Linked DNA regions of Homo sapiens. The protein of the gene in region 3 purifies or fractionates together with the protein of the main gene of each other region. This does not show direct contact. Each region holds a gene or a part of one and is shown on either strand. Other genes may lie near its edges.

Region 1 (7,699 bases), on a different chromosome or scaffold from region 3:
AGCCTCTTCTTCCTCCTTGTCCTCTGAGGCGGCCATCGCTCTTGAAGATTCTGGCTCTAGAAGGACAGCAGTCACTTTGCTTTGCCCAAGGCCCCTGCTGTAATTTCAGACGAGATCAGGTGCATTCAGGGTGGTATGGCCGTAGACCCCTGATATAATTTCAAACAGCATTTTGTCACTTTCCATTTCTGCTTCTTTCTCTATTTCTTACTGATCTTCTATGCTTTCAAAAGTGCCCTCTAACATCTCCTCTACGATCCCAGCCTTCAACATTTCTTTGGACAGCTCCTGCATGGTGGCCTGGACTTCTGTAATCTTCACAAGATTTAGCATCATATTTTTAATTTCTAACAGCTTACTTTTGTTCTCTGAATATTCTTGTTTCGTGGAAGCAAAATCTCCTCTTATCTCTCTAAAGACATTTATTGTAGTTAAAAAGCTTTCTTCTGTTCTCTGCATTGTTAATTTGCTTTGAATCACCTTTTTTGTTTGTTTTGGTCCCTGATTTTCAAATTAAAGATTTTCTTAAATGTAGAATGAACTATGGTTAGATGTTCATCTTTAATAGTTGGGCACCTCAACTTCTTCTGCCCTGAAAAAAAAAAGTTGGGTACTAGAGGCTGATTGGAAGTTTTGGATATAGAGGTGGGAACTTTGATCTTTACTGTAGGATGATGTGGTTGTATCATTTCACTCTCTCTCTCTTTTTTTTTTTGAGACAGTCTCGCTCTGTCACCCAGGCTGGAGTACAGTGGTGTGATCTCGGCTCACTGCAACGTCTGCCTCCCGGGTTCAAGCAATTCTCCTGCCTCAGCCTCCTGAGTAGCTGGGATTACAGGCACATACCACCACATCTGGTAAATTTTTGTATTTTTAGCAGAGACGGGGTTTCATCAGGTTGGTCAGGTGGGTCTTGAACTGCTGACCTCATGATTCGCCCGCCTCGGCCTCCCAAAGTGCTGGGATTACAGGTGTGTGCCCCGCAGCTGGCCAGTTGTGTAATTTCAATGAGGACACCCAACTGTTAGTAACTAAAGGTCTGATTTCCTCAGTTGGTCAATTTCTCCAGAAATGAATCTTGTAATCACTTGGCTGTCATTAAAATCCATGTTCTCTCCATGGTACTATCTTGATTAATTAAGCACTAAAAGTCTGTAGTCTAACTGTTATAAGAATTCAGGAGAGGTAGAGATCAATTAGTGGAAACGCTGGGGAAAACTTAATAGATGAAGTGGGACATGGGATAAGCTCAAAAGACAAATAGGCCAGCCAGAAACTGAGGTGAAAGAGAATCAAAGTGAACAGTAATTAAATGCTGTAGTTCAGAAATAGGAATAATCACTTTTAGCTGATAATGTAGCACAGCTAAATAAGACATGTATATGGAATGAAGTCTCTATTCAGCCATGAAGCAGCTTGTGACTTCTGCAAGGTATTACTCTAAGACATTCAATTTCTTCACTTGAAAAACTTGGGGAGATTATCTTCAAAGTCCTCCCTAGGCCTAAGGTTTCTTTATGGCATTTACTATTAAGATTCTTTTGCATTATGTAACTTTGCCAGTAATAAATTATAATTAGTGAGTGACTATATAGTTTATAGGAGTGAATCTAGGAGCTCTGAAATTACTGTCATGAAAACATTAATTTATAGGGAACTTAAGGACTTTATTTACATTAAATCTCATATGCTTTAAATCTCATATCTCCTACTGCTTTAAAACAATCTGTCCACTTGCTATATGTAAGTGTACTCTGATCATTCCCTCTAATAAAGTAAAAAATTAAAACCTGAAACTAACCCCTTCTGAAATCCTGACCTTGTTTTTTCCCTTTGCATATAGACAGAGGATATCATTGAAGAAGGAAAATAGGTCTATTTCCTCTATTAATGTATAACTGTGCCATTCCTAAATGGGAGAATTGATTCAAATTAATTTGTAACACATGATAGCAACACTTCCTTGAGAAACTGTTCTAGCTACATCTCTTGTTCAGCAAAGTGTACTAATTTTCAGAGAACAAAAGCAAAATAAAGTTTCACTTAAGACTATGCATCTCAAAGTTTAATGTACACACAAATCAGGGCTTTTGTTAAAATGCAGATTTTTCTGTAGTTCTGGGATGGGATCTGAGATTCTGCTTTGCTTTTCTTTTCTTTTTTGACAGAGTCTAGCTCTGTTGCCCAGGGTGGAGTGCAGTGGCATGATCTTGGCTCACGGCAACCTCCACCTCTGCCTCCCAGGTTCAAGTGATTCTCCTGGCTCAGCCTCCTGAGCAGCTGGGACTACAGGCATGCACCAACACGCCAGGCTAATTTTTGTATTTTTAGAAGAGACAGGGTTTTACCATGTTGGCCAGGCTGGTCTTGAACTGCTGGCCTCAAGTAATCCGCTTGCCTTGGCCTCCCAAAGTGCTGGGATTACACGCATGAGCCACCGTGCCCAGTTAGATTCTGCATTTCTAACAAGCTTTCAACTGATGCTGGTGCTGCTGGTCTGTACACATACACTTTGAGTAGTAAAGGCTTATACTTTTTTGATGTATGATTAGCTCACTCAAGTCAGAAGTCCAGTGGCAGTGGACACAGGGACTAGAGTTTAGGAAAGAGAGACTTGGGCTGGGAATATTTGGGAGTCATCAGTACATAGGAGATTTTGATGCCAGAATATGAGGATAACGGCCCAGGAATAGTGTTTGGAGAAAAAGGAAGAGAGGCCCAAGGCCAGCCCATGGGTAGCGCCATTATTTAAGGCACACTTGTAGGATGAAATTTAAGAAGGTCAAGAAGTAGCAGATGAACCTGAGATGCCAATGATGCTTTTCAATGAGAAGCCTGTAGTTCTCAAACTTATATTTTAAAATATAAGTAATAACTACATTTATTGAGCCTTTTATTCCTGGCACTGTGCTAAGGGCTTCAAATTTTCTCTAAAACACAGGGTGTAAGAAATGTGATGTCACATTAAAATTTTTCTCTAACCACATCCCAATGCTCTGAGCTGGTGGAAAATGTAATTTGGGTCATCAGTAGGATTTTCCACTCCACACCCAAGATTATATGAAGGTTCTAGGGGTCTTAGTCTCAGTCCAGTACATTTGGAAAAGGCCCTCTAGTCTTCACTCAATGCTGATTACTGCTAATATTCTCATTTTCCCACCTCATTCATCCCTTGTAGGTGAGCTGCTTTCTTGATTCCCTGCCAAGCTTGGGCATAAGGGTCTTGGTCATGGTTGGAATCTCAGATACCTAGCACGCAATCTCCCTAATATGCTACGCATTCATTCCCACCTAAGGTTCCACCACTTTCCTCACCTATTAGGTTCCTGGTAGTCACATAACCGGCAACTCTCCTTTTCTGTCGTTCAGCTAGTTGCCACCTACCTCAACCAAACTCAAAAGCCTCTAACCCCTCTCCACTGTGTGAAGACGGAAGTACCTCAATGGACACAAGTGTTTTTGGTGAAAGGGACTTTTTATTCTGCCCCGGAGCTAGGGAAATCCCAGATCTGTGCCAGAGTTATCAAGGGGGTAGTATATAATCATTCTCTGCATTCTTTTACAGCACTGAGAACAAGTAAAATTCTTACCTTAGTATCTTTACAAATCATTTTACCACACATGTATTGTCGTATGAAATCCCTACAACCACTCCATGCAGGAGTAATTCCCAGTTTACATCCTGAAGCTCTGATAAATTTAGAAACCTGCTTTAAGTCACAGAGCTAATAAGTAATGTGTAGGTGCTATAAACTATGTGCCTTGGGCTCTGCAGCTATGAGGGCGTGGTATTATCACAGTTCCTATCGAAATACCTTGCTGGAGGTCATGTGTGAGTGGCAGTGACCAGACAAATAGAGAAACCTCATATACAGAGGGGAAAAGTCTCCATGTATAGTGCCTGGGATATCTCCATGTTAGTGCTGCTCTTTCTTGGATCTTCACCGCAACGCCACTATCTTGATTTTACTATAAGAAACTGAGGTTTCGAGTGCACTGGTGATTTGCCTACTGCCACAAAACCAGGCTAATGGGCTGGGCGCGGTGGCTCAAGCCTGTAATCCCAGCTCTCTGGGCAAAGGCTGAAGCGGACGGATCACCTGAAGTCAGGAGTTCGAGACCAGCCTGGGCAACATTGGCGAAATCTCGTCTCTAATAAAAATTTAAAAATTAGCTGGGCGTTTGACGCGCGCCTGTAATCCCAGCTACCCGGGAGGCTGAGGCTTGAGAATCGCTTGAACCGAGTGGCGGAGGCTGCAATGAGCCGAGATCGCGCCACTGCACTCCAGCCTGAGCGACAGAGCGAGACTCCTTTTCTACAACAACAACAAAAAACCAGGACAAATCTTGCTGGCTTCCAGTATGGTATTCGTTTCATCTCACCAAACTGGCGTGGCCTGCGCTAGCTTCAGAGTCTCGACAAACTCCAATACAAGTAAGGTACACATTATTTTAGCAGTCTTCCTTGGGGAGGACGTGGGGCAAGCACAAGCGTAGCGTTAGGCCTGAGACTCCACCCCAGCCGTCTCTGAGCCCAGTTCAGCACGCACGCGTCAGGCGGCTTTTTTCCGCCCGGCTCCTTTCCTCCACTCCCTTCCCGCCACTCCCCGCCCTTTTCCCGCCCGGATGTTATTCTAGTTTTGCCGGATGTTGTTGTATGTCCGAGAGACACGTGAGGTTCTGCTACGTCATTACCAGGCACGCGCAGGAAACATGGCGGCGGCGGGTGTTGTGAGCGGGAAGGTAGGTAACGGCCTCCAGGAAGACCTCGGCTTTTCTCTGGGACGGGGATGCTTTTGCTCCCTGGCAGCTGGTTGGGGGAGGGACACGAGGGACTTTCTGTGTCCGGACAACCCGTGGCGTCTGTAGGAGAAGACTGGGTGGTACCAGCTGGTTTCCCGAGAATGCCAGTTCAGCCGCGGAGTTATAGAGCCGGCTACTGCTCCAAGGCCAGCTAGGCCTCGGCGCTCTTCTGCCCCAGAGCAGAGAGGCTTTTATTCGTATTACCTTTACTAAGGGACAGGTGGCTCTCTAGTTCCTTTTTTCCCCCGATTCACTGTTTCTTGACTCTAGTTCTTTATGTCTACTCTTCTGACTCCAGCGTCTTTTCTCTCTTTGAAGCGTTAACCCGACTTGCCTCTGTCTTCTTTGCTACAGTTTGGTGAAGATGTTTATGCTTCCTTCGGGAGGAGCTGAATAGATGCTAGGCAGCTAGCTGTGCGCTTAGAAGAAACGAGTGTATTGGGTCTGTTTTTACCAAGCTGCTGAGTTGGTTGGTGGTTGTGAGCAGCAGGACGTGTTTCCTGAGAGAAATGGAGATTTACACCATCCTGTGCTTGTCTAGGAAGGCGTCCAAATATTTATTTCCTAGGCATTTCAGTAGGAGTATTGGTCATGCTGGTTTACGGAGGTGGTCAGTGACACGCCTAATTTCGTTGGAAACTAGAATTACGTGCGGAGATTTCGTCGAATAGTGCCTATTCGCGTTCCGAGGGCACATCTTATGCATAGTTAGGGCTATCAGCTTTATGATATGCCACCGATAGTATTTCCCAGTGCAGGAGTATTTCATAAACAGCTGGAATCAACTGAAGTGACTCATCGAACACTAATGGTTGTTTACTCATTGCAGATAGCGTCCTCTGTTCCTTGAGTTTCACTCATGTCTCCCTGTTGCTTTCCCTACCCCATTTTGAATTATTTGACAGCGTTTGTGGTTTGGTGTTTGGAGTATTAGACTAGGCGGCTGAATGACAAATATGGGCTTGGTTTTGCTGTTAATCTGAAGTATGACCTTGGAAAATTGGGCAATTGTGACTTTTGTCTTTTCGCGTTCTTTATCTGTAGAATGGAGGAGATGCCAATCATTATTTCTTGTATTGGAGTTGTTAGGGTTATATAAATTTTTTTTTAAAAAAACATAAAATTACACACTTGTACCTACTGGCTCTTTTAAAGGATAGGTGGGCATCCTTTTTTGGATTATTCGTGCTCCTTGGTTGTCTTGTCAGTTTTTTTCTTTTTATATTCAGGGTGGATGCTGATATACTGCTTGACTTACTGCGTATTTGAAGATTATCCTGTTTGATTTTCCATCTAAACTGATCCAGGCTGGGACTTTTCAAGAGGGGATCCCTTCCGTTTAAACATCTCCCTCTTTCAGGTTTGGATTGATTTTGAAAGAATCCTTGAGGCAATGAAGCAGAGTTGTGAAATGAAAAACATTTTTCACTCTTTGCAGCCACTACCTTTCATAGTCTGACTTCTTAAAGTGAGACTTATATTTAGTAATTCTGCTTCATAACCTCATTTATTCTCATTCACTGCAAATTCACATCTATTGCCATCACTCCACTGAAACTAGTTTTCCATGCCAAAAGCTGCTCCTCTCCCAAGTAATACTATCATGACCAACAAAACCCACTTGTTCTTCTCTCAGTAAGTTCAGATCTGGTTTAATGGCATCATCTTTCACCTGGTTGCATGTTAAACATACTTGGAGGCATTCATTCCTATAACACTCTCTAATCAATAACCATGTCCTACCAGTTTTACCTTAAGAGGTTTCTTAAATTTACTGCATCTTCTTTACTATCAGCGCATAGTTCAGGCTTTTAGTCTGCTTCTATTCTTGATTTCTTGGCTGATTTTACTCCTTTTCTACAGTCTCTGCCCTTAATCTTCTCTACACCACCACTGGAGTTATTTTTCTAATGCGCAAACCTGATAATCTCTTGATTTAAAAAGCAAATGAAAACTCTTCACTTTTTTATCGTCAGCATAATAATAATAATAATGAAAGCTGGTTAATGTAACATAAAAAGACATGATACCTTTATGCTTCCCTACTTCCTAATCTTTTTTCTTTAGGAAAGGGGATGGGGAGAAAATGTGTGTGTGTGTTTATTTATTCATCTCCCCTCTCCCTTCAAGTTTTAGCTAAGAGTTCTAGTTTAGAAATCCAGGGGAGTGAATGTTAACCAAGGCTCACAAAAATCACTCGTGATACTTTTTAATAAAAGTACAGATGGTGGGCTACCAGCTCTGTTGAATTAGAGTCTCTCAGTGTCTCCACCTAGGATGTAACTTTTCTTAAAACTCTACTTGCTTTGAACTTGGAGTTTCGGAAAGTGATGGAGGAAGTTAATCTCTGTCTTGTAGGGAAGCAGCAAAAGGTAATGGTTAAGAGCTTGGTCTCTGAAACCAAACTAGTTTCAGAAATTATCTCCACACATTTACAAGCGACTTCAGTAAAATTACTTAACCTCTCTGTGCTTCAGTATCCTCATCTGTGATATGATAACAGTACCTACTTTATTCTTGGTATGAGGATTAATGAGTAAATATATTAGAAACTGTAGACTGAACTAATCATCATGAGGTCAGATCCTGAAATGTTTCATCTGCCCCTAACATAGATTCTGGCACATAATAGGTATTCAGTGAAGAGGAAGAAGCAAGAAGGTATGAGAAAATGAGGAACCAGGTGCCGTGGCTCAGGCCTGTAATCCCAGCACTTTGGGAGGCTGAGGTGGGAGGATCACTTGAGCTCAGGAGTTCAAGACCAGCTTGGGCAACATAACTAGACCCTGTCTCTATGAAAAATAAAAAAATTAGCTAGTTGTGGTGACATGTGCCTGTTGTCCCAGCTACTTGGGAGGCTGAGGTGGGAAGATTGCCTGAGCCTGGGACTTGGAGG
Region 2 (7,251 bases), on a different chromosome or scaffold from region 3:
TCTTTCTTGTCTCCTCCCTCCCCCAGTTACACAGACTCTCATCTCTAGCTCCTATGGCTGAGGACTCAGCCCCCAAATCCCTCGAGCCCTTCTTCCCAACTCCTAGAACCTACCAGCTCTCCAACCAGCTCAGCACCTCAAAGATCTCCCGAGGGTCAGTGTAGAGATGCCAATCCTGTGAGTACGGAGAGTGGACATCAAACCAGACTTGGATGAGCCACAGTCATTTAATAATAAGAGCCATAGCAGCAACTACAACCGCCCCTATGGCTAATGCATATTTGGCACTTACCATGTGCCAGATACTGTCTCAAAAGTTTTTACACATTAACTCATTGAATCACCACCTGCCTGGTTTCACATTATACTCTCCACTAAGCAAGAGGGGAGAAAATGACCCTGAGAATGGTCTGTGTCCACAGGGAGCTAAACATCTAGGGGCAGAGAAAGTATGGACACAAATATTCAGAACCCAATAGGATAAACTCTGACTCAGAGTGTACCCTGTGGGGCCCTGGAGGAATAGAGGAGGCGAGGAAATGTTCTGCTCTTGGCCTTACTGCTCTACGAATCTCCAAAAACTGGTTAGTACTGAAGAGATAGGAAAGGAAGACACTAACACAAAGGCAGGAGGAGGACAGGAAGAGAAATGACGAACCAACAGAAGACTGAGAGAGAACAAAGGACTAAAGGACGGTTAAAGATGGGCCAGGGAAACTGAGCAAGAGAGAGAACAGCTGCTCACCATGGCACTCAGGAAGCCCCTCTCCAAGGCATTGAGAGTGGGCACGGCCACACCCCCAGCAGCTCCCCATTCGTCGTTGAAGACCTCCTCCTCCTCCCCTTCATCATAGAGGTACTTACTGGCCACCATCTGCAGAGGAACCAGAAGTGGTGGAGCAGAGCTCATAGCAGGCTCTTGGCTCTTTAGGGAGATGGGGAGGGGGTGTCTTACCATGGAGATCAGGAACAAGTCAGAGGATGACACATGCTGCAAGTAGTCTGGGTTTCGGTGCCGGAGCCGTTCAATGTACACCAGAGCCAGCATCATAGCACATGGGGAGATGCATGCCTCCCTGGGTGGTAGAAAGGATCACTAATTAAACCCAAGGGTCCTTCAGCTCTTGCAAGTCTTATGATGCTCGTTCCTGTCTTTACCTCTTATCTTTGGAAAAAAACTATTCCTGGCTGGGCACGGTGGCTCATGTCTGTAATCCCAGCACTTTGGAAGACCAAGGTGGGTGGACTGACACCAGGAGTTTGACACCAGCCTGGCCAACATGGTGAAACCCCGTCTTTACTAAAAATACAAAAATTAGCCAGGGGCGGTGGTGTGTGCCTGTAGTCCCAGCTACTGGGGAGGCTGAGGCACAAGAATCACTGGAACCCAGGAGGCGGAGGTTGCGGTGAGCCGAGATTGTGCCACTGCACTCCAGCCTGGGTGACAAAGTGAGACTGTCTCAAAAAAAAAAAAAAGAAAGAAAGAAAAGAAAGAAAAGACGATTCCCCTTTCTCTAGGGCCCAAACACTCTCATCCTATCCTCATTTCCAGGCTCACCGGGACACATGAGCTACATATTTCTTCTGGAGTCGGCGAATAGGGCTGGGGGCTGCCTTCTGGAGCAGTTCGACAGCAATGTCTGCAAGGGACAGAAGGAAGGCCGAGTGAGCAAACAAGCACCCACACCCAACACACCAGTCCCCACTGCTAGCAGAAGACCCAGATCTGTATTTTCTGAGGCCTTGGGGACAGGACCATAGTAACAAAATAGAGATCAAATTCTCACACACTGAGACAAAAAGCCCATTCCAAGTTCGAATTTCAGCTCATTCTAACAGGAAAGCTTATTGCCCTGTCACATCAAACTATCCAGATTTATCTGTCACTGCTGTTCATCTGTGGCATAAACATGCCTTGTTTACTTGGGGAACATATGATGGATATCCTTCGAAAATTAGCTTTTCAATATATAAATCAAGAGTGATTTGTATAGATATATGTGGCAGCAATGTTTTTTATTCATTTGGGCTAAAAGAATGGGAAATGCAAACTGCCCTCTTGAACCAAGTACCAACGAGCTAGCAATGAAGAGACAGTGTAGCCACGGGGCAAACCTCGAGCCATTTTCTGCCTGATGACAATCCCATTTTCATGCTTCTCACTTGTCCAGTCACACAACACTGCCTAACCTGCCACCGGGCTGGAGAGCTCCTCCAGGCTACAGTCGGCTTCCCAGTCCCAGCCATAGTAGAGCCTCCTTCGGATCCGGGCACTCAGCTTCTGGTGTCCTGGGAGGAACTGAAACAGGGCAGGGGCAGCGGAGGGTGAAGGGCACGGAAAGGTATGATGCAGATCCTGGCTCTGGGCTGGAAGGCGGGGCAGGGGACAGGCCGGCCTCGCTGCTAGGGGGCCCGTGCCTTACCCAGACCCGCGTTCTGTAAATCGCTTGCCAATGGCAGCCTGGTCCATAGAGGGAGGAATGCCCCCACCCCCATCGAGGGTTCCCCGGGAGAAGTTCTCCGAGAAGGGCCCTCGTGTGGCCACCCCTACGCCCATTCCTATACTCCGCGGCTCTCCCTCCCGGCCCAAGCAGCCGCGGCCTCAAGGAAGCACTGCTCGAGCAGCTGCCGCCCAGTCCCGGCACAGCAGTCAGGCGAGCTCGCAGCGCCGCTCAGGCCGGGAGGGGCGCGCCGGGAGGCCGGGGAGGGGGCGGGACCCCCACTCACCGTGAAGTCCTGGAAGCCGGCGAGGGAGAAGGTGCCTTCTTCGTCCAGCAGGAGCCCGGTCAGGTCCATCGCGCCGCCAGTCGCCGCCCTGCGAAGGTGAACGGAAGGAAACGAGTTGTAGGGGGCTCGCGGAGCTGTCCTTGCCCGCCTGTCCACCTGCCAGCCTGCCTCCCCGGGGCGGGCCGCCGTCCTCGCCCTCGCCCTCGCAGCTCCCTCCCCCCGGCGGCGGAAGGCGGGGCCCGGGCTGAACTGGGCGCCTCTTCCTGTTCCGCCCCGGGCTTGGCGCGGCGCGCGGGGGCCCTAGGCCCGGGAAGGGAGGTGTCAAGCGTCCGTGCGACGCTCACCTCGCGGAGCAGAAAGGAGATGCGGCTGCGAGGCGCGTACTCCGCCTGTGCCGCGTCCGCCCGGCGTTTACAAGCCGCGGGGGTGCCGCCTGCAAGTCAGCGCCTGGCACTTCCTGCCGCCCATCTGGCCCAGCCTCCCGCCCCGACCCGCGGGCAGGAACCGGACTCGAACTCCTGGTCTCACGGAACGTGGCCAAGCCCCAGGCGCCTCTGAGAAATGGGGACAATTCGTAGGGGGGACCACGCCGCACTGAGGATGAACAAGCCAGGCGTAGCAATGGAGAAGTTAATGTGAATAAGACGAAACGCACAACAGGAAGTTGTTCCCAGTTGCTTTTTAGGAGAGATATTATACATACTCAGCAATGCATATGAAAAGCGTCTGAAAGGACACACAGGAAATTTAGCAGTGGGTGAACTATGAAAAGGAAGAGAAACTCAGGGTGTTTTTTTTTTTTACTGTAATTTGAACTTTTAAACCTAAGGCTACTGAGGAAATTCTGTGATCTTAAGCGAATGTAAGGCCTCAAAACGTGTCAACACGTCCACCCAAAAGTAAACTGCATCTACCCAAGGTTTTGTGTTGAAACCCACCTCCCGCCTCCGATCTCATGCTTGAGTAGGCCGAGGTGGGAAGAAGCTCCGATATGTGGAAGTGGGAAAGTTTAAGGAGATAGGAAAGAAACAACTTTTCTGAGTAGATGTTGTTTTCGAGTCTGTCGAGTCAAGCGCTGGTGTGTGTTTGTTTACCCACTGAGGGGAGGGAACTGGGAGGACCAGTGCGTTGAGGGTTGGTTGAGTAATGGGACGGCCACCGCCCTTCCCGAGCGAGCAGAAGCAGACCCTACCGGGGATACTGGGAATCTGGAAGCCCACTTCCTGCCCCACACGGGGATACCGGGGCAGCACCACACTCCCTAGCCGCCCTGCCTACTGTGGGATAAGAAAACGGGCTCGACTGCCTGGACCTAGACCCGGACTCGGAACCCGGGGTACTTCGTCAACCAGAAAACGAACCTGTGTAGGCGCAGTGTCAGCGGCAGCCGCCGGGGCGCATGCGCGGCCCGCCCTATCCGGGGGGGGGGGGGTTAGGCCGCGTCACGTGACGGGCTCAGCGCTCCGCAGTCACGTGACGCTCGTCCGCAACCTCTGCTGTCCTCCGCGGCGCCCCCTTCCGCCTGACGCGCCCCCGGCGGCGGCCGCGCAGCCCTGGCTCCTCGCGGGCTCGGGCGGCGGCTGCGGCGGGGCTATGGCGAGCGGCGGTGGCGGGGGTAACACTGGCGCGGGTGGGGGGCCGGGGATGGGCCTGAGCCTGGGCCTGGGTCTGGGTCTGAGCCTAGGCATGAGTGAGGCCACCAGTGAGGCAGAGGAGGAGGCGGCCACGGCCGAGGCGGTGGGACGCCTGGCCACGACGCTGTGGCTGCGGCTCCGCGGCTGGGAGGCGGTGCTGGCGGCGGCGCAGCGGTTGCTGGTGTGGGAGAAGCCGCTGCACAGCCTGGTCACGGCGGCCGCGCTCAACGGCCTCTTCTGGTAACGGCCGCGGAGGAGGGGGCGGGGCCGGGATGAGCGGGGGAGGGAGGGGTCGAGAGCACCATTCCCCTTTCTGGGTTATCACTTGGCCTGGGGGCATGACCCATCCCCAGTTTTTGCAGGCTGACATCCGCTTGAATTGCCCATTTTTTTCTATCTCTGAGTCGTGAGTCGCGAGTTAGGCCTGGAGGTGCCATTACCCCATCAGTAGGCGCCTTTCCACCTTCTGAGATGGATGCATGAGCCTGTCTCACCCACTCACTGCTGAGGTGCCTGTCTCTCCCTAAGGTTGCTGTCTTCCTCGTCCCTCCGGCCCTTCTTCCTACTCAGCGTCTCACTTTTGGCCTATTTTCTGCTGGATCTCTGGCAGCCTCGCTTTCTCCCTGACGTTTCAGGTGAGTGTTTCTTCATTCAGTAAGCACCCATTGGGTACTTGCTTGGTGCCTGATTCCGCTGGGTGGGGTTAAGTGGCGAGGGGAACGTACAGCAGGCCACCTGCCTCCCAGGCATGGCCCACTTCCTTTTTGTACGGAATTCCCTAAAATGAGAATTGCCCCTTTCCCAAACTAATACTACTGTAGGTGCAGTGGTTAAGATGGTGAAGTCTGCAGCCATATTACCTGGGTTCCATTCTCTGTTCTGCCATTTACCATTGCTGTGACCTTGTAAAAGTAGCTCAATTTCTGTTTGTCTCAATTTCCTTATCTGTAAAACACAGATGATAGAACTTACTTCATAGAGAGGTGAGGAGAGGATTAATGAGTTAATACACATGCTATACTTATGATAGTGTTTCACATATAAGCCTTATAAATAGAACGTCAGTGTTGTTTTTCTTGTTATCCATATAATTTACTTAGTAGGTGACAGGCTGTATGTGAGTTGCTTGGGAGATAAGCATGAGTAAAATCTAGTTCTTATGTTGGAGAAGGGTAATGTCTAAAGGAGACAGACGCAAACAAAAACATGTAACAGCTCCCCCATTGGCATCTGAAGAAGGTGCTCTGGGGCTGCAGAGGAGGGACAACTATTTCTGCCTTGGGGAGTGTCTCCCAGGGCCCCTACCACTCAATAATTTGCCCCCCTCCTCTCTCTCTAGCATCATCCCCAGAGGAGCCACACTCTGACAGGTGAGTACAGGCCACCTCTTGAAGACAAATGCCCACATCCTGTCCTGCTTGCTGGTGCCAGTGTCACCATGGAGCAGGGCAGTGCCCCAGCATTGTGAATGAACTGGTAACAAGCCATGGGTTTTTCATGGTCCTAGGCTCCTGTGTAGGTGTTTGCGTGCCTGCTCCTTTTGGGGCAGAGGGTTGGGTCCTCCTGGCTTTGCTTCTAAGACCAGGACAGCCTCCTTTTGAGAGGTGGGGTCATTTGCTTTTTTAGACTAAAGATATCTTTGGCATTCTCAGAGGGATTTAAGTGTCTAGGAAGCTGGTATCTGAGGCCTCCAGGGGTCATGTCATGTCTCCCCAGTGAGGGTGCGGGGTCAGGCGCCCGGCCGCACCTGCTGAGTGTGCCCGAGTTGTGCAGATACCTGGCTGAGAGCTGGCTCACCTTCCAGATTCACCTGCAGGAGCTGCTGCAGTACAAGAGGCAGAATCCAGCTCAGGTAACCTCCCCTACATCATACAACAGTTCACTACACTGAAGGGGAATAGAGGTGGCGGGGGATGGGAGTGGAGTGATATAAACTCCCCGCTTGGAGACCCTGAAAGAAGAGGCCTGGGCGCCTTCTTGAGGCAACATTCACAGCTAATCCCTGGTGCAGGAGGCAGTCTCACCTCAGGAAATAAGCTTTTGATAGCCTGACACTTTCTCCTGCCAAGGCAGACCAGTGTGAATTACAGGTGGTGGGCATTATGTATTGCCAGCTTCCTGAATTGGTGGTCTTGAGCATCCTCTTAACCAAACTGGACCACCCCATTCCTTGAGTACATACCCATCCTTCTACCAGCTGAGCAGTAGTTTCTTACCCAGCCGAGCGGGGCGCATATCTCAGCGTGATGTTCTTAGACTTTTGCTCTTCTCTGCAGTTCTGCGTTCGAGTCTGCTCTGGCTGTGCTGTGTTGGCTGTGTTGGGACACTATGTTCCAGGGATTATGATTTCCTACATTGTCTGTGAGTAGGGTCTGTCCCTGCCCTATTTAAAGCCCTCTCCTTTCTTCTTTCCTTGGACTGACCCAGAGGGAAGACTATGCTCTCTCTGCTCAGTTTCTGATTTGTGGAGATCTCCAGGGATGCTTTAGTATTAGTAACTGTGGAAGACTTACCTGGGGAGGAGGGCAGTGGATGTGGCAAGAAGAGGTTGGCACAGCCTTGGGAAAGGACCTTGCCTACCTTCAGCACTTCAGTTTAGGGACCAGTTGAATGGGGGCTCTTAGGAAATTGGCGTAGGGAGCTCTTAGTTCACGTTCTTAACCCATAGTGTTGAGTATCCTGCTGTGGCCCCTGGTGGTTTATCATGAGCTGATCCAGAGGATGTACACTCGCCTGGAGCCCCTGCTCATGCAGCTGGACTACAGCATGAAGGCAGAAGCCAATGCCCTGCATCACAAACACGACAAGAGGAGTAAGGGGCTGCCCTAAGCCAGGAGGGTGAAAGAGCGGGAGGGCCTTGGCTTGGGGTTCATGAGATGCCCTGGAATTG
Region 3 (7,020 bases):
TGCATAAATGGCTTGCTTCCCAAAAGACTAATATTATGGGTGTTTCCTATTCAAAAATAATTAATGGAAAAAAAAATTTGGACTCTAATTAAGCACTTGAGCTCATATACTTAAACAAGTAATATGGTGATAATGCCCTAAATTCAAATAATCTCAATGTTCATGGCTACTTTTTCCATGGGTAAAACTTAGAAAGGAAAAATTTCTGTCCTTTTCCTTCTTGCATGAACTGAACAGTTAAGAGAATGAAATGCCTCTGGTTTTGTGAAGAATAGTTGAGGTAGGAAAAGAAAAGGTTGGAAGTTAGGGGATAGGGCTTGGCGATGTAGCTGGATGGGAAAAACCAATGTCATCCTCAGAAGTATTGATGCAGTGACCCAGTTGCAGCCAATAATATACAACATAAAGGGTGTAGGTAAAGATACAGGAGATTCAAATAATAAGCAATTCTAAATTTGATCTAATCCAGGTATACCTTCTTTTTACATAGAAAAATGTTGGTTTCTTCCGAACCTGCTTTTTGAGGAACGAAGCATAGAAAAAAATGATCCAAAGCAATGTAAACTCTGATTGGTATAGTTGAGAAACCCCAAATCTCCTTGCTCCTAGGTAGTCTCCTTTATGATTCTTGTAAAAGAGCTCACCCAGGAAAAAGTTTACAATGTGGTGGAGATATAAAGTTCAGCAACATTGGATCCTCTGCAGTGTGCATCACTGTGGCCCATCTTGAGTGTCATTGTTGTGATGATAGTTTCAAGTATGGAAGAGTCCAAGAGAACTAGAGCAGACAACTGGGAAAGAAAAGAGTGAAGGACAGTGATAAAGAAGGGAAAAGAAGAGTTGGGTATGGGAAAATGAAAGGACAAGTGTTCCTGCTCCATGGGCCTGTGCCAACTTAGTATATAGCCATTGGCCCATATACCAAAGTGTAGGACTGCCGTAAAGGGCACCAAATTATTCTGCTATGAAATTAATTAAAGAATTCATATACAATTGTTTTAAATTCTATTGAGAGAAACAAGGAAGAATTCCTGTCTTCTAACAATGTCCTAGGTCATAGAAAAACTCAGTAGATTTTAAATATATTCAACTTTTTAAATTAAATTATCATTTTGTTTATATACTAAGAATGTAAAGTTATGTTTTCATTAAAACTTTAGTAGCAATGAGTAAATTATATGCATTTCAGAGAGAAATTATGACTTTTGTATACATATTTTATGAGATTCCTATGAGCTTAAAAACAATTAGGATAAACTTTAAGAGCAAGACCTAAATTACTCCTCTTTTGTAAAAGGACTTTATAATTTCACTGAGCATGTTAAGTATTAAAAATTAGATTTAATTATAATACAGACAATTCTTCATTACAAAACTGAAGAATAAAGGATTAAACTTTAATAAAAATCATAAAATCTTGTCTATAAGTAGTGCTCAATAAAAATTTATTAAACTGAATTTAATTGAAACCAGGAAAGTGAAGTAAATACTTTATCAAGATTTATCCTAACACCATTACCTTATTTTGTAATTCACAACAGATATGTTTACATCTGACAAGACTCCTTCCTTCAATAATTCAGTATTTGTCTTACAGATTCTTTTATTAAAAAAAAATTTTCTGACCAGTAGGGATAGGCTAGATAACTACTTGAAACAGTCCAAACTCAAAGATACTCAAATTATAAAATTCATAATTTGACATAATTTTCTTCGTATATGTTTCTGTTATATATAATTTGTCCTGTACCCCTCTACCATTTTTAGAGACATATGAATGAATTTCGATGTTTTCACAATTTACTTAGAACATTTGAGGCAGACTGCATATTCCCCTAGGACCTTATTCTATAGGTTTAAGGATAAATGTATTTGTCATTCTGCAATCAACAACTGAAGACGCAGTTTAGTATTTGAGATAAATTCTTGTGGGACTACTTGAGATGATCTTCAGCTAATTTAAAACAGAACATTGTTTTTTAAAATGCCAGCAGGACAAGTTTTTTATCAGCTAGGCCAGAAAGGACTCTGGAAAACGTGCTGGATTTAAGATTACTTTTTTGAGTCCAGTTCTTCACACATAGACGTCGTCTCAAAATAAAATCAAGACTTAAATTATCCTGGCAAATTTTGAAATACATGAGTTGGGATATAGCAAACATAAAATGCTTTTGTTTAACTACAAAGCAGACAGAAGGTACCTCCAGCATTTACTGAAGGCCTCTTATGACACAGGTATTAAAGTTTGACATATATCATTTAATTTTCACAACAACCATATGATGGAGATTGTTCTTGTACAGATGAAGTTGATGTTCTGATAGGTTAAGTGACTGGTCAAAAATTACTGAAGTCAGATAGCCAGGACATTGGCCACATGCCACATTCAATAAATACAGTGACAGAGTAATCAAAGCTGAGAGCGAATAACTTGCTTCTGTTTATTTGGTCCTTTATTTCACTAATTTTTACTCATATTAATCACAGATTAATTATGACATAGATTTTGGAATCCTGTATTATTTTTGCCTATTTTTTATGTTTTGGGAAAATAATACATTTGGAAGAATTTACTGATTACTTCTCATCATTTGATAAGAATTACGATTTCTCTGATAATGGTAGTCAGCAATGAGTCCATTAAATCACACATATATTATCCCTGCCTGGAGATACTATCTTCAGTTCAAAGAACAAGTGACTGGGATAATGACATAAAAATACATAATATGGAGAACACATAGACTCTGAATGTTATGTCATGTGTTCCATCTCCCTAATTTCAGAAAGAATCATCCTTCAACTATCTTGCATAGAAAATTATGTAGCATATATTGTGCAACCAGAGGCAATTTTCTCCTCTATAAATAATATCAAGGTTGAACAACCACTACATATAGGAAATGTATCCTCATGTTGCTGTTTAACATTAATTAAATAACTATTACTACACATGGAATAAACATAAATCACTCATTCACAGGTAATATTTCTTAGTTTTAAGCAGGAAATATTGAACATGCTTGGCTGTCTTGTCTATTTTATGAAGGAAAAAATGTGTAGCTTTATTAGACATTTTAGGAGCTTACACTTTGAGAGAATACTTATGTACATAACTCGAATAAATCTCATGTCGCCATAGGGGGATATTAATTTAGAATGTGCAAATGACAACCACATCCATCTCTGGCAATAGCCTGCCACCTGGCCTGAAATTCCTACTGGTAGAATCTACCAAAGGACCATCATGAGAAATGTACATTTCTAATGTACTTAAATGACTTAAGAGATTTAGTTCCAGTGCATGAAAAGTAACAAATCCATAGGCATTAATCATCACCACAAATCATTATCTAGCCTAGAACAAGGCCCACAAAATATAAGACAAGACAGAAATGTGGAGAGTGGCAGGTAGAAGGAAAGTTTATAGCACAAAACGTTAAGAAACAATTGAACCAGCATAATGGCACTTTGCAAATGTGAGAAGGTAGAAAAACTTCTGAAAAGAAATGAAAGGGTATTCTTGTCAAAACCCACTGTACCTCTTCCAGACGCTTTGCCGGAATTTGATCTGATGGCAACTTAATTCCTTCTTAGCCTTGGATCAATAGAATGCAACTTCCAGTTTCCTTGTTAGGGTCATGGATGCTTTAAGAAAATCCCCCTTCATTCTGTTATCAGCTGTCTCAGAACATATCTAAAGGAATCAGTATTTTAAAAATATAAAGAATAGACTATTACAGCAAATCAAGCAGTACTGTGGTTTCAGATCGCAGTAAAAGTTTAAAACATAGACTTTGAAATCAGTGGGACCTGAGTATGGACCCTGGCCCCGCCACTTACTGGCTGTTTAGGCTTGAAAAAGTTACTTACCCTTTCTGAACTTTACTCAGTCTTCTCATCTACGTGATGGATATAAATTAGAACTGACATCATGAGGTTGTTTAATAAGATCAAATGAGATTATACATATATGTTTCAGCAAACTAAGTGCCTAACTCATAATAATCACTCAATAAAAGTTGGTGATTTTTGGAGAGAAAGAAGAAATACTGAGATTAATTAAGAGAGTAGAAATAATGATGATGACAATGATGCTGATGATGATAATGATGACAATGATCCATGAAGAAGCAGTTGTTTTGCATGAGCAACGTATTGTGTATAAGTAATATAATATGTACCTGATTGTTTTTTTTTTTCTTAATTTTCAGTGTGCACCTAATTGGCCTATTGGTTTGGCAATCTGATATTTCTGTGAGCCCAGTAGCAGCTATAGTAACTGACATTTTCAATACCTCCGATGGTGGACGCTTCAAATTCCCAGACGGGGTACAAAACTGGCCAGCACTTTCAATCGTCATCATAATAATCATGACAATAGGTGGCAACATCCTTGTGATCATGGCAGTAAGCATGGAAAAGAAACTGCACAATGCCACCAATTACTTCTTAATGTCCCTAGCCATTGCTGATATGCTAGTGGGACTACTTGTCATGCCCCTGTCTCTCCTGGCAATCCTTTATGGTAAGTACAATTTTATTCACTTTTCAATCTCGTATAATGTCATAAATTTGTGTCATAGTAAACACTCATAAAGTTAATTATTTTACTTGTAACATTTGGAAAAAGAAAAAAGCAAATCGTGTGACAGAAGGAGTTGGATGTATGTATCATATTTATTAAACAAATCAGTAACAGTCTTCCAAAAGCAAAACATACATTTTATATATATTAAAATCATACATAGATGCTCTCTTGCTTAGTGTCTTTGTAAACAATGAATGAACAGTTAGTTGCCTTACAATGTACTGAATGAGACATTAACAGAAACATCTTTCAACCCCTGTGTTCTGGGCAGTACACATACCTACTACCATCTCTGATACAAAGAAGGAAAAACCGGCTCATCCTCTTTAATAAATATATTTTAAGAAATCCTTTTTTAAAGCTGCCAAACTAAGTGGTTGACACAAAACAGGCACTCAATAATAGCTATTCTTCTTGTTCATGGAGTCTATAATTTGTGTTATTACAAAGAGACAAGAGATAGCAAAATTAATTACTAAGTATATAAGTGTAAGTTCATATCATCACTTTAAAAATTCAGGCATTGAAAGTTTCAATATATTGATTTTAAAGAGGTTTTTAATTTTTCTTTTGATTTTCTTCCATCCCTTCATTCTGTTCATTTTAACCTAAGGTTTTGTTTCTAGCTAATATTTATGATGAACAATCAAATAGTTTATACAACTCTACAAAGTATCTTTACTAGGAAGTTGGAGAGCCCAGTTTGAATTTAATTGCTAATATGCTTATCTCACAAAGGAGTAAAATAGACTTCCAGTTGCCTGGAGTGTATAATGGAATTAGACTAGAAGAAATAATATTGAAAGTGTATCTAGTTGTCGAATCCTAAAAGAAAATAAATGCATCTAGAAAATAATCTCTCATGTAATGTAAAAATTAAGTAGCCTGTTCTATACCTATGGCAACAGTAGATTATCTTAATAGGCATTTTATAAAGTGTTCTCAGAATATATGCTTTTCATATTCTTCATCGAGTTTCAATGATGCATTAGCCTTAAAGCACTAGTATTTTATCTGCTCAGTGGGCATTTTACCACTCTATTGCTCCAAAATTAAGAAAAGATTACTGGAATGAAGTGAAACTATGATTTAGAAGGTATACTGTGTTCTGTGGTGTCTGTTTCGCCAGCTTCTCCCTTTAAAAAAATGTGAGTGGCCAAATAATGATATTAGCATAAATCCAAGTCTCTTAACATATCTATTCCCCTGCCCAAATAAACAAAGAACAATATAAAAAACAAATAAAACTGCACAATACCACCATTAAGTGTGGAGAACATTCAAATTTCAAATTACCTGTAAGTAGGAAAACAAATGGGAAATAACATTGAACTATCTATTAGACTTCTACCCCATGCTGTTGCGTAGAAGAAGAGTAGTCCAGGAAAGATAGCATGAAATAAACTAGAGGAAAGCTATTAGGAAGCCTAAGATTGATCTAAAACCACCACAGGTGGCCGGGCGCGGTTACTCACGCCTGTAATCCTAGCACTTTGGGAGGCCCAGGCTGGCGGATCACTTGAGGTCAGGAGCTTGAAACCAGCCTGGCTAACAGGGTGAAACCCAGTCTCTGCTGAAAATACAAAAAAATTAGCCGGGCGTGGTGGTGGGCGCCTGTAATCCCAACTACTCGGGAGGCTGAGGCAGGAGAATTGCTTGAACCTGGGAGGCAGAGGTTGCAGCAACTCGAGATCACAACACTGCACTCTAGCTTGGGCGACAGAGCAATACTCCATAAAAAAATTTAAAAAAAAAACCACCACAAGCAAGTAAGTCTACCCCAAGTACGAAAATACTGAAAAGTTTCTCTAGAAGGTCAGCTTTCAGATAAGGTACTGAAAAGTATGCATAAGACTCAAGAAAGCAGCCTTGGAAAATTAACTCTTTGGAGGTGGAAAAAGGTAAAAAAGGAAGCAAGAGGTGACTTGAAAAAAAAAAAGCACAGTGAAAGGAAAAAGAAGCAAGAGGGGGAAATTTATCATCTTACAGTACAGAAAATGTCAAAATATTAGGACCCATCACCCCTCCCTCTACTGTCTCCCACTGTCCCCCAAAGGCCCTCCAGTAAAGAAACCATACTTTGATACACAAAGAAAAGAGGATGCTCTTGAGCTTGGAATTTTGGAAGCTACCTACAAACTGTCAGTCATGTTCATAGAAATTCTGAGATGCAACCAATCTTCATCTATACCAAGCTACTATAGAAAAAAATCAGAATATGAGAATAGAAAGAAGGCATTTGATGAACATTCCCTCCAATAAAGAATGATCAAGCCGAAGAATATGCTAGCAAAACACTTCAAAAAAAATCTGCAAACAAGCATGTTAAGGTATTAAAAAATGTACTTTGAAGTAGTAATCTAATAACTAAGAATAGAAATGGTCAAAAAAATAGGACAGCATGAAGGAAAATTAACTGAATTCAGGAC

The links. The genes of interacting proteins can lie anywhere in the genome.
Region 1: the proteins of HTR2C (region 3) and TBC1D15 purify together in Homo sapiens (co-immunoprecipitation; 3 studies listed by BioGRID and IntAct, with this or other methods). This does not show direct contact.
Region 2: the proteins of HTR2C (region 3) and RETREG2 purify together in Homo sapiens (co-immunoprecipitation; 3 studies listed by BioGRID and IntAct, with this or other methods). This does not show direct contact.

The regions. Positions count from the first base shown.
Region 1 is NC_000012.12:71,835,069-71,842,767, forward strand, and holds the start of TBC1D15 (TBC1 domain family member 15), read left to right. Parts: upstream 1-4,690; 5' UTR 4,691-4,713; coding exon 4,714-4,743; intron 4,744-6,032; exon of another isoform or gene 6,033-6,163; intron 6,164-7,699. UniProt on the Homo sapiens protein: Acts as a GTPase activating protein for RAB7A. Does not act on RAB4, RAB5 or RAB6.
Region 2 is NC_000002.12:219,174,033-219,181,283, forward strand, and holds the start of RETREG2 (reticulophagy regulator 2), read left to right. Parts: upstream 1-4,242; 5' UTR 4,243-4,320; coding exon 4,321-4,601; intron 4,602-4,676; exon of another isoform or gene 4,677-4,889; coding exon 4,890-4,996; intron 4,997-5,700; coding exon 5,701-5,731; intron 5,732-6,077; coding exon 6,078-6,213; intron 6,214-6,637; coding exon 6,638-6,722; intron 6,723-7,029; coding exon 7,030-7,173; intron 7,174-7,251. Other genes in the region: protein CNPPD1, read right to left, coding at 114-175, 746-874, 956-1,076, 1,559-1,640, 2,191-2,299, 2,728-2,796. UniProt on the Homo sapiens protein: Endoplasmic reticulum (ER)-anchored autophagy regulator which exists in an inactive state under basal conditions but is activated following cellular stress.
Region 3 is NC_000023.11:114,727,080-114,734,099, forward strand, and holds part of HTR2C (5-hydroxytryptamine receptor 2C isoform a precursor), read left to right. Parts: intron 1-3,542; exon of another isoform or gene 3,543-3,697; intron 3,698-4,214; coding exon 4,215-4,528; intron 4,529-7,020. UniProt on the Homo sapiens protein: G-protein coupled receptor for 5-hydroxytryptamine (serotonin).